Linked DNA regions of Homo sapiens: region 1 is linked to region 2. The links come from fine-mapping of genetic effects on gene expression. A gene starts in region 2. The other region holds a variant in brackets. All regions are shown on one strand. Distances are from middle to middle. Region 1 overlaps NSMAF (neutral sphingomyelinase activation associated factor). Region 2 holds the start of UBXN2B (UBX domain protein 2B).

Region 1 (5,384 bases), 220 kb after region 2:
CAGACTCAGACTAAACGCTATACCATTGCCTCTCTCCTGGGTCTGGAATTCTTGGCCTCTATAATCACATGATTCAATACCTTATAATAAATCAATTTCTCTCTCTGTATATATACATATATACAGCAATATACCCCTAGATGGGTGTATATGTCTGTATATATGTATATGCATATGTATGTATGTATGTATGTATATATATGTGTGAATGTATGTACACACACATCCTATTGGTTCTGTTTCTCTGGAGAACCCTGACTAATGCATTTGTAATTATTTATCTTTCTGATAAATTGACCCTTTTATCATTACATAATATCCTTCGTCTCTTGTGAAAGTTTTTTATTTAAAGCCTATCTTGTCTGATATAAGTATGGCTAGCTCTGTTGTTTGATTACCAAGCATGGAATATTTTTTCCCATCCTTTCACTTTCAGCCTATCTGTGTCCTTAAACCGAAAATGAGTCTCTTGCAGATGGCATATAGTTTTAGATCTTATTTGTTTTAATCCATTCAGGCACTCCATATTTTTTGATTGGGGAGTTTGATATACTTAATTATTGATAGGGAAGGACTTACTGTTGCCATTTTAACTGTTTTCTGTCTTGTAGCTCATTTGTCCTCTTTTGTCCTCTATCTTCCTTTGTGTTGACATTTTATCATGACATAGTTTGATTTCCTCCTCATTTTTTTTAAAATTTATTTTGATAGTTTTTGTGGTACAGGTGGTTTTTGGTTACATAAATAAGTTCTCTGAGGTTTTGGTTTACCTGTCACCTAAGCAGTGTACGTACCCAATATGTAGTTTTTTTATCCGTCATCACCACCCCCATCCTTCCCCCTAAGCCCCCAAAGTCCATTATATAATTCTTTTTTTTTTTTTTTTTTTTTGAGATGGAGTCTCACTGTGTCACCCAGGCTGGATGGAGTGCAGTGGCGCGATCTTGGCTCTCTGCAAGCTCTGCCTCCTGGGTTCACACCATTCTCCTGTCTCAGCCTCCCAAGTAGCTGGGACTACAGGCACTTGCCTCGCCCGGCTAATTTTTTGTATTTTTAGTAGAGACAGGTTTCACAGTGTTAACCAGGATGGTCTCGATCTCCTGACCTCGTGATCTGCCCACCTTGGCCTCCCAAAGTGCTGGGATTACAGGCATGAGCCACTGCACCCGGCCCCATTATATAATTCTTATGTCTTTGCATTCTCATATCTTAGCTCCCACTTATAAGTGAGAACATACAATAATCTGGTTTTCCATTCCTGAGTTATTTAACTTAGAGTAATGGCCTTTAGCTCCATCCAAGTTGCTCAAAGGCCATTATTTCATTTTGTTTTATGGCTCAGTAGTATTCCATGGTGTATATATATAGGACTTTTTCCACTTGTTGGTTGATGGGCATTTATGTTGGTTTCATATTTTTGCAATTGCAAATTGTGTTACTATAACTATGTGTGTGCATGTGTCTTGTTCACATAATGGCTTCTTTTTCTTTGGGTAGATACCTGACAGTGGGATTGCTGGATTGAAAGGTAGTTCTACTTTTAATTCTTTAAGGAATCTCTATACTGTTTCTACAGTGGTTGTATTAGTTTACATTCCTACCAGCAGTGTAAAAGTGCTCCCTTTTCACCAAATCCATGCCAACGTCTATTATTTTTTGACTTTTTAATTATGGCCATTCTCACTAAGTAAGGTGATACCTCATTGTGGTTTTAATTTGCATGTCCTTGATAATTAATAATGGTGAGCATTTTTTCATATGTTTGCTAGTTGTTTGTATGTCTTCTTTTGAGAATTGTCTATTCATGTTCTTTGCCTACTTCTTGATGGGATTATTTGTTTTTTGCTTGCTGATTTGTTTGAGGTTCCTCGTAGATTCTGGATGTTAGTCCTTTGCCGGATGTGTGGTTTGCGAAAATTTTCTCCCACTCTGTGGGTTGTCTGTTTACTCTGCTGGTTATTTCTTTTGCTGTGCAGAAGCTTTTTAGTTTAATTAGGTCCCGTTTATTTATTTTTGTTTTTGTTGCATTTGCTTTTGGGTTCTTAGTCATGAATTCTTTGCCTACGCCCCTGAAAACTGGAACAAGACAAGGTTACCCACTTTCACCACTTCTATTCAACATAGTAATGGAAGTCCTAGCCACAG[C/T]AATCAGACAGAAAAGAAAGGGCATCCAAATTGGAAAAAAGGAGGTCAAACTGTCACTGTCCACCAATGATATGACCATTTACCTAGAAAACTCTAAAGACTCATCCAAAAAGCTCTTAGATCTAATAAATGAATTCAGTAAATTCTCCAGATAGAAAATCAATGTACACAAATCAGTAGCACTGCTATACACCAACAACGGCCAAGCTAAGAATCAAATCAACAATTCCATTCCTTTTATAACAGCTGCAAAAAAAATAAAATAAAATACTTATGGTTATACTTAACCAAGGAGGTAAAATAGCTCTACAAGAAAAACTATAAAACACTATTGAAAGAAATCATAGATGACACAAACAAATGGAAACATATCCCATGCTCATGGATGGGTAGAATCAATATTGTGAAAATGACCATACTGCCTAAAGCAAGCTACAGATTCAATGCAGTTCTTATCAAGATACCACCATCACTCTTCACAGAACTCCCATCAAAATACCTTTGTCAATCAGAAACAATCCTAAAATCCATATGGCACCAAAAAAGAGCCCAAATAGCCAAAGCAGTACTAAGCAAAAAGAACAAATCTGGGGGCATCACATTATTCAACTTCAAAATATACTACAATGCTATAGTTACCAAAATAGCATGGGGCTAGTATAACAACAGGTACATAGACCAATGGAACAGAACAGACAACCCAGAAATAAAGCCAAATACTTATAGCCAACTGATCTTTGACAAAGCATACAAAAACATACAGTGGGGAAAGGACACCCTATTCAATAAATGGTGCTAGGAAAACTGGCAAGCCACATGTAGAAGAATGAAACTGGATCCTTATCTCTTACTTTATACAAAAATCAACACAAGATGGATCAAAGACTTAAACCTAAAACCTGAAACCATAAAAATTCTACATGATAATATTGGAAAAACTCTTCTTTAGTGTATCTTCTATAGGTATTTTCTCTGTGGTTACCATGGGTCTTATATAAAACATCTTACAGTTATAATAATCTCTTTTAATCTGTTAACAACTTAACTTCAGTCACATACAAAAACTATTCCTTCAGATACCTGTCTCCTTTTATGTTAATGATATCTCAAATTACATCCATTTATATTGTGTATTCATTAACACAGATTTCTAGTTATGGGGTTTTTATACTTTTGTCTTTTAATTTGTATACCAGAATTAAACTGATTTACACACCACCATTACAGCACTACAGTATTCTGTATTTGCCTTTATCAGCAAGATTTATAATTCCTACACTTTCATGTTGGTGTTTAGTATCTTTTTGTTTCAAATTGAAGGACTCACTTTAGCATTTCCTATAAAGCAGATCTAATGGTGGTAAACTCTGAGCTTTTGTTTATCTGGGAAAGTCCTTATCTCTCCATTTTTTTCAAGGACAATTTGCCAGATACAGTGTTCTTTGTTGGCAGGCATTTTTATTTGTTTGTTTTATTTGGTTTTGTTTTTACCATTCTGAATTTATCATCCAATTTTCTGACCTGCAAGCTTTCTGGTGAAAAATCTGATCATTTTGTGGGGGCTTTCTTCTGTGACCAGACACTTTTCTCTTGCTGCTTTCAAAATTAACTCTTACTTCTGATAATCTGATTATCATGTGTCTTGGTAAGGACATCTCTGAAGTCCTCCTATGTGGAAGACTTCTTAAATCTGGATGTCCATCTCCTTCCTCTGTTTTGGCAAGTTTGGGGCCATTATCTCTTTAAATACACTTTCTGTTTCTTTCTCTCTCTCTTCTCTTTCTTGGACTCGCATATTATGTATTTGGTCCACTTGACGGTGTGTCATTAGTACTTTAGGCTTTCTTAACTCTTTTTCATTCTTTTTTCTCTTAGCTCCCCTGACTGGATAATTTCAAAAGACCTGTGTTCCAGTTTGCTGATTTTTTCTTCTGATTTATAGTCTGTGCTGAACTCCTCTAGTGAACTTTTTAGTTAAGTTACTACATTCTTCTCCAAAATTTCTGTTCAGTTCTTCTTTATATTTTCTCTTTGTTAATATTCTCTTTGTTAAAATTCTCATTTTCTTCATGCATAATTTTCCTGAGCTCATTAAGCATCTTTATGACAATAGTTTTGAATTCCTTGTCAGGTAATTAATATAGCCCCTTTTCTTTAGGGTTGGTTTCTGAAAATTTATTTTGTACCTCTGATTGGACTATTTTTCTCTGATTCTTTGTGCTCCCTCTAATTTTGTGCTAATATCCACACATTAAAAACAACAACAACAACAACAAAAACAATTACCTCTCCAGTCTCTAAGGACTGGCTTCATACAGAGAAAGAGACCTTCATTAATCAGCCTGGCTAGAGATGCTGGAGGCCTCTCAAACCTTTTCTATGGAAGTGTCTTCTCTGGACTTATGCATGTAGATTCCTAATTAGAGAAATTTATTGGTTTCATTTTTTTCAGAAGCTTGGACTCCTTTGCTGTCTCTCGTGTCTAGATGTCTGCTGTACCACAGGTCCTTTGAAGCAGTAGCGTGCTACCCAGCTCTCTTTTGTTATCAGTGGCTCCAGGCATCTAGAGTATGCAGGGTTCCATCTGTACTCTGAGACAGAAGAGACAGAAGCCAGTCCCTTGGGCAGCTCCCCTGAAAAGTCAGAACTCTGGATGTATAGTCCAATTTTCTCTTTCCCTCTCCAGGGAGAAGCTAGAGGCTGGGAAATTTCTTCCCAATCATGTGGTGCTGTGTGGGACAGAGGATGGCCAGATAGTGACACAAATTTTTATACCGGCTTTGATGTGGTTAGTTTCATGCTCACCGGGGGTGCAGGATCCTCTTAACTGGTTTCCAGATTTCTCACAAAGGGAATTTGTCCATGTGTTGCTGAATCAGTGTCTTCACAGGAGGAAGGAGGGGCTAGAACTTCCTATTCTGCCATCTTGCTGCTGTCATTCCACCTCACCCTTTTTTTTTTTTTAATCTGAGAATGCTTTGGTATTATAATTCACATTGGAACAAAAGAGCTTTTCTTTACTCAGACAACCTCACTTTTATTTCCTTTCACATAATCTTTCAATGAACCATGTGCAGGTATGCAATTCAGCTGGCTCTCACGAGAGCCTTTAGAGGAAGGGCACCCCAGGTGAGTGGTTCTCAACTTGGGGGTAGGGTTTCCTACTGCCCCCAAAGGCTTTTGTCAATGTGTGGAGGTGCTGTAACAAAAACAAGGGGAGCAGTGTACGAGAGGCATTT
Region 2 (5,384 bases):
ACGGACACAAAACAGATTAACAGGGAAAAAGCATACAAATTTTATTTAATAAAACTTTACGTATAAGTGGGTGTCCTCACAGGAAAATAAACACCCGAAGAAGTGGCTAGGCCTAAGTGCTTATATACTAGGTTGAACAAAGAGAGGCAATCGTGGAAGAGTATCTAGGAAGATACTGGTTAGTTTAACAATATCTGTACAGATGTTTCTCGGCCTCAACTCCCCTTCTCTGGTGATGAGTATCTTTCCTCTTGGTATAGGGAGGGCATCTATCACATGGTAGTTTCTTTTCCTGCTTTCAGGAAGAAAAGGTCAGAGTGCTCTTCTTGCACCTGCTGTTTATCAAATGCTTTTTTTTGTTTTTTGTTTTTTGTTTTTAAGACGGAGTCTCTCTGTGACACCCAGGCTGAAGTGCAATGGTGCATCTCTGCTCACTGCAACCTCTGCTTCCCGGGTTCAAGCAATTCACCTGTCTCAGCCTCCCAAGTAGCTGGGACTACAGGCACGCGCCACCACGCCCAGCTAATTTTTGTATTTTTAGTAGAGACAGGATTTCACCACGTTGGCCAGGCTGGTCTGAAACTCCTGACCTCAAGTGATCCGTCTGCCTCGGCCTCCCAAAGAGTTGGGATTACAGGCGTCAGCCACGACGCCCAGCCTCAAATGCCTTTATACATCAAAACGATCAGTATGCCAAAGCTCGGGCGGCAAGCTGTCGACTCCAGCACCTAGCATGGTGCACACAGCAGATACCAACGGAGTATTTCCCCTCACATGGCTCACATTTCCTTTGTAACCCTCCCAAGCAAAGCTCTACTGCAAGCTGCATCTTACCCGTTTACATGTCTCTTTTCCCTACTAGACTGAGTTTCATAATGACTGGGACTATTTCTTTTTACCTTTGCATCCCTTGGGCATAAAAGTGCCTAGGAGGCCAGGCGCAGTGGCTCACGCCTGTAATCCCAGCACTTTGGGAGGCCGAGGTGGGCAGATCATGAGGTCAGGAGATCAAGACCATCCTGGCCAACATGGTGAAACCCCGTCTTTACTAAAAATACAAAAGTTAGCCGGGCATGGCGGCACGCACCTGTAGTCCAAGCTACTCGGGAGGCTGAGGCAGGAGAATTGCTTGAACCCGGGAGGTGGAGGCTGCAGTGAGCCGAGGTCGCGCCACTGCACTCCAGCTTGGGCGACAGAGCGAGGCTCCGTCTCAAAAACAAAAAGTGCCTAGGATAAGAAGACCAGAGTCTAAATCAATTTCAGTTGAATGACGAGGGCTTGATAGTCTCGAGATCTGCTTTTTTTCTTTTTTGAGACGGATCCTCCCTGTGTCGCCAGGCTGGAGTGCAGTGGCGCGATCTCGGCTCACTGCAACCTCCGACTCCCTGATTCAAGCGATTCTCCTGCCTCAGTCTCCCCAGTAGCTCGGACTACAGGCACGCTCCGCCACGCCCAGCTAATTTTTGTGTATATATATATATATATATGTGTATATATATGTATATATATGTGTATATATATATGTGTGTGTATATATGTGTATATATATATGTGTGTGTATATATATATATATATATATATATATATATATTTTTTTTTTTAGTAGAGAAGGGGTTTCACCATGTTGGCCAGGATGGTCTCGATCACCTCGTCCGCCTCGGCCTCCCAAAGTGCTGGGACTACAGGCGTGAGCCACAGGCCCGGCAGAGTTCTGCTTTTAGCAAATTATTCCAAGCACTTTTTACGGTGTTTTTCACTCTCAGTGCTAATTCACGCTGTGGTGACGATGTACCATCCAATCCTTGATAGGAAAGATCAGAGAATCTGACCAAGACTAGATGGAGAGGTTGCAATTTTTCATCAGATGAAAAATCCAGAGGATGTTTTCATTGTTGAGCTAAATGAATCTGCAAGTCTATGCTGCCCTCTAGGGCGGCCTACAGTGCCTTTAGGCGAGTAGCAGGAGCAACACAAAACTTAACAGAGGTTTCCCTGCGGAGAAACTCCCTTTAAGAAAAAAGGAGAAACCAAAAAGGTGGGCCAGCACCGGAAGCGGGGGCGCGGGTTCGGGTAGCGGGGACGCGCACGCACCTTGCGCGTCTTCGCCCCTCCTGCGGTTGCCAGGCAACCGGCCCCGGAAGTTGCGGCAGGTGCGTCCGCAGCGGGCGCCGCTAGCCAGCGGAAGATGGCGGAGGGCGGAGGCCCTGAGCCCGGCGAGCAGGAGAGGAGGTCTTCCGGGCCGCGGCCTCCGAGCGCGCGGGATTTGCAGGTGAGGCGAGGAGCCGGGGGAGGGAGCGCGGCGGTGGACGCGGGCTGGTGACGGCGCGGGCTGGTGCGAGTTGGAGGCCACCTCTGGCCTCGGCGGAGCCTTTCCCCGACCCCGTCTGGGGATAGAATCCGGCGCCCGGTCTCCCGATGTCGGGTCTTGACACTGTGGTGGTCGTGAACACAAGTGCCCAAGCCTCCAGCGCTGGTGCTTTGTCTCCCTTCCACCCCACGTATGATGTAAAAATAGCTATTCGTTTAGAATGACATTTTGCGGGGTCAGTTGGTCGGTTCACGGGTTGATGCTTCCTTCTTGAGACTTACTCCAGAAGAAAGGTTACTGTGGCCGCAGGGAAGTAGACAGTCACCTGAACAGTAATGATACGTGATTTGTTCTTTTTTGTCTTGGATGCTATTTCTGACTTGCTTACTTAAATATAAAAATGGTTCCATTTTATCAGGTAGGTTTTTCTTTTAAAGGGGTGAAGGAAAGCGATGCACTCTATGCCCATACAGCCTAGTTGTCTAAGCTGTGGTCTTTAAAACATTGCACTGAAGAAACTGGGAAATAAAATTTCGTAATGTTGTGTAGGACACTAGTATTAGTTAGCTAAATAGTAGCGCACCAAATCCCGTTTTATCAGATACTAACGCCACTTTTCTCATTTTAGGCGTTTTTGTGTCTCATTATAAGATTATTGATAAAAATTTGACAAGTAAATATCAGTAAGGAGATACTAAGGAGAATCTTGGTAGAACAGTTTTACTGTATTACTTTACAACCACACTTCATTCTAATGTGAACAAACCACCATCCATTGTAACATACTGCTGAGCTTTGCGAATGTGGAAATAAGGACATCAAATCCTTAGTCGGTGCTGAACTCTATTGATGGGTAGGTATGTAAGTGTAAAAGACAGTTCTACCTTTTGGAAGCCTACAGATTTCTTCGGAGAAATAGGGTATGAATACTTAGCATAACATTTTAAGATGGAGTATGATTGGGTGCCAAAATAAGCAGTGCATAAAGCGAAGAATTTGGAGGCTGGAGAGATCAGTGTAACATTAGGAGGTGAACTTAATGTAGAATAGTTCCAGCTCCCATAGTTGGTTCAGTAGTAGTAAACAGTATCAAGGGATAGGAAGCTATTGTGTACCTCATCTTTCCTATTATAAACCCACATCACTAAGAGGCAGCATGGAGTTAGTAGTCCCACCAATTTTGGTTTGCCTCTTAGTCCTGCTACTTAGTAGTTTTGTGAACTTAGGAGAAATGTCTTAACCTGTCTGATCCTGTGTCTTCATTTGTAAACTGAGGAAGGTCAGGGTGCTGGTGGTGGTGTAAGGATTAAATAATGTTATAAAGGGCCTATGCAAAATTCCTACATTATCCTGGCTCAGTTGTTGCTGGGCAAATATTTGATTCCTTTTTCCTCAGGAGAAAGATGCTATAACTTTCCCTGGCTAGTCAATTCTAATATCATTAAAGTTAATAGAGTGTGTAACTTAATGTCCTTTCCCTAATTTAAATCCATTTCTTCTTTTTATGTGAAAAGTGAGAACAGCTTGCTTAATGACCACCTGATTCTTGGCAAATTGTTTGCAGTCTTAATCCAGTGGATCAAAGTACGATTAATGTTTGGAGATACTCTGGTAGATGTTGCTAATTGTGAGAATGCCTTCATTTCCACCCTAAGTTATGATGGGGATTTTTTTTTTCATCTCCTGTCTACTTGTTGTAGGTTAGGGCAGTAGGAAGATAACTGATTTCTTTATGAATGTGATTTGGTGTATCAAGTACAGTATCTAAGTATTGATAATCTTTCCTTTAGAACTTAATATGAATGTGAAGAACTTGCAAAGAAACTTGAAAACAGCCAAAGGGATGGCATATCAAGAAATAAAGTATGTATCAAAAGTTTAAAAGAATTAAATAATGTTCTTCCCAAATGGTACCTTGGATATTGATTATTTATAGATTATCTTGTTACCGTTTAATCTAGACATGCTTTTCTTAAGAGTTACGCAGTTCGTGCAGCTTTCAGTAGATATTTCTTACTTCCCTAACAGCTTGCTCTAAGAGTCTTTCAGAGTGAGTAAAGGGGCAACATATTACCAATTGGAACAAGCAGAATTACCCCTGAGTAAGTGTATCTTAGCTGCCATGCAGTGTAGGGTTTGTCAGCATCTGAATCAGGAGGGAGTGTTCCAGGTACCACCAGAGAAAAGCTGCATAGTTGCTTCCCAAAAGGCCTCCCAGCCCTGGGAGCCCCCAGGTTACAAACTGCAGACTCGGAAATGTTTTTTTGCATATCAGAGTAGATTTTCATAGCTCCCTTCATCCCCCTCAAATAAGGAGATGGTCATGGGGAAAGTTAGGGGTGGGATTGTTAGTGGCAAAACTAAGCCCAAAACCTCACCAGTGTTCAATAGTATTTCTGAATTGCTTTCTCTTCTGGTGTCCCTCAGCCCGCCACACACATGTTCATTAAGGTATTTAGTTGTATACTCTGTCCCAGTTTTCCTCCACATATTATCTGTTTCTACATAGGTTGGACGGGGAGGGAGTGGGAACAGGGATAACTTCAGTATTGTTAGGGTTAGGATTGGATTTGTTAGGATGGACTCAATAGTGGGTACTATAAATGAGAAGAATTAAAATGTCTGATAGCTGTTCTGATAACTGTGTTGCCACAAGTACCCTAATCATATTGAATGTCATTATTCTGTATCGTTGATTCTCTAGTATGCATCTGTGACCTGGAAGGCTTGTCAGAGATTGCTGGGCCCTACCCCAGAGTGTGATTCATTGGTTCTAGAGTAGAGTTTAAGCATATGCATTTCCTAGAAGTTCCCAGGTGTCTGTATAATAATCATTTATTACAGCGTCTAGAATTGGTTACTCTAAGGCTGAGAATTCCAATACTTTTAATATTTTGCTATATACTTTATTTTCTCACCCGATTCCTTTGCTTTCAGGTTTCAAGTTCTTCACATTTCAAATTCTAGAGGAAAGATTATCAATACTTTACTTACATACTTTATCCTCTGCATATTATTGAAACATTTTCTTAATTACGTTTTGAGATTTTTTTGTTGTGTTAGTTTTGACCAGTAC

The links. PIP is the estimated chance that this variant, and not a neighbour inherited with it, causes the effect.
Region 1: its variant is fine-mapped to the expression of UBXN2B in lung (TOPMed, PIP above 0.99).

What each region holds. Positions count from the first base shown.
Region 1 is chr8:58,625,222-58,630,605 of GRCh38, forward strand. The region is part of intron 6 of NSMAF (neutral sphingomyelinase activation associated factor); the gene reads right to left. Among named protein-coding and RNA genes, the nearest start is that of NSMAF, 32 kb to the right of the region's middle. The variant C/T (reference allele first, on the strand shown) is at 2,146.
Region 2 is chr8:58,409,201-58,414,584 of GRCh38, forward strand. It overlaps UBXN2B (UBX domain protein 2B), which reads left to right and starts at 2,161. Exons shown (of 8, transcript NM_001077619.2): 1 at 2,161-2,269. The coding sequence starts at 2,186. RefSeq lists enhancers at 2,157-2,216, 2,227-2,276, 2,557-2,606.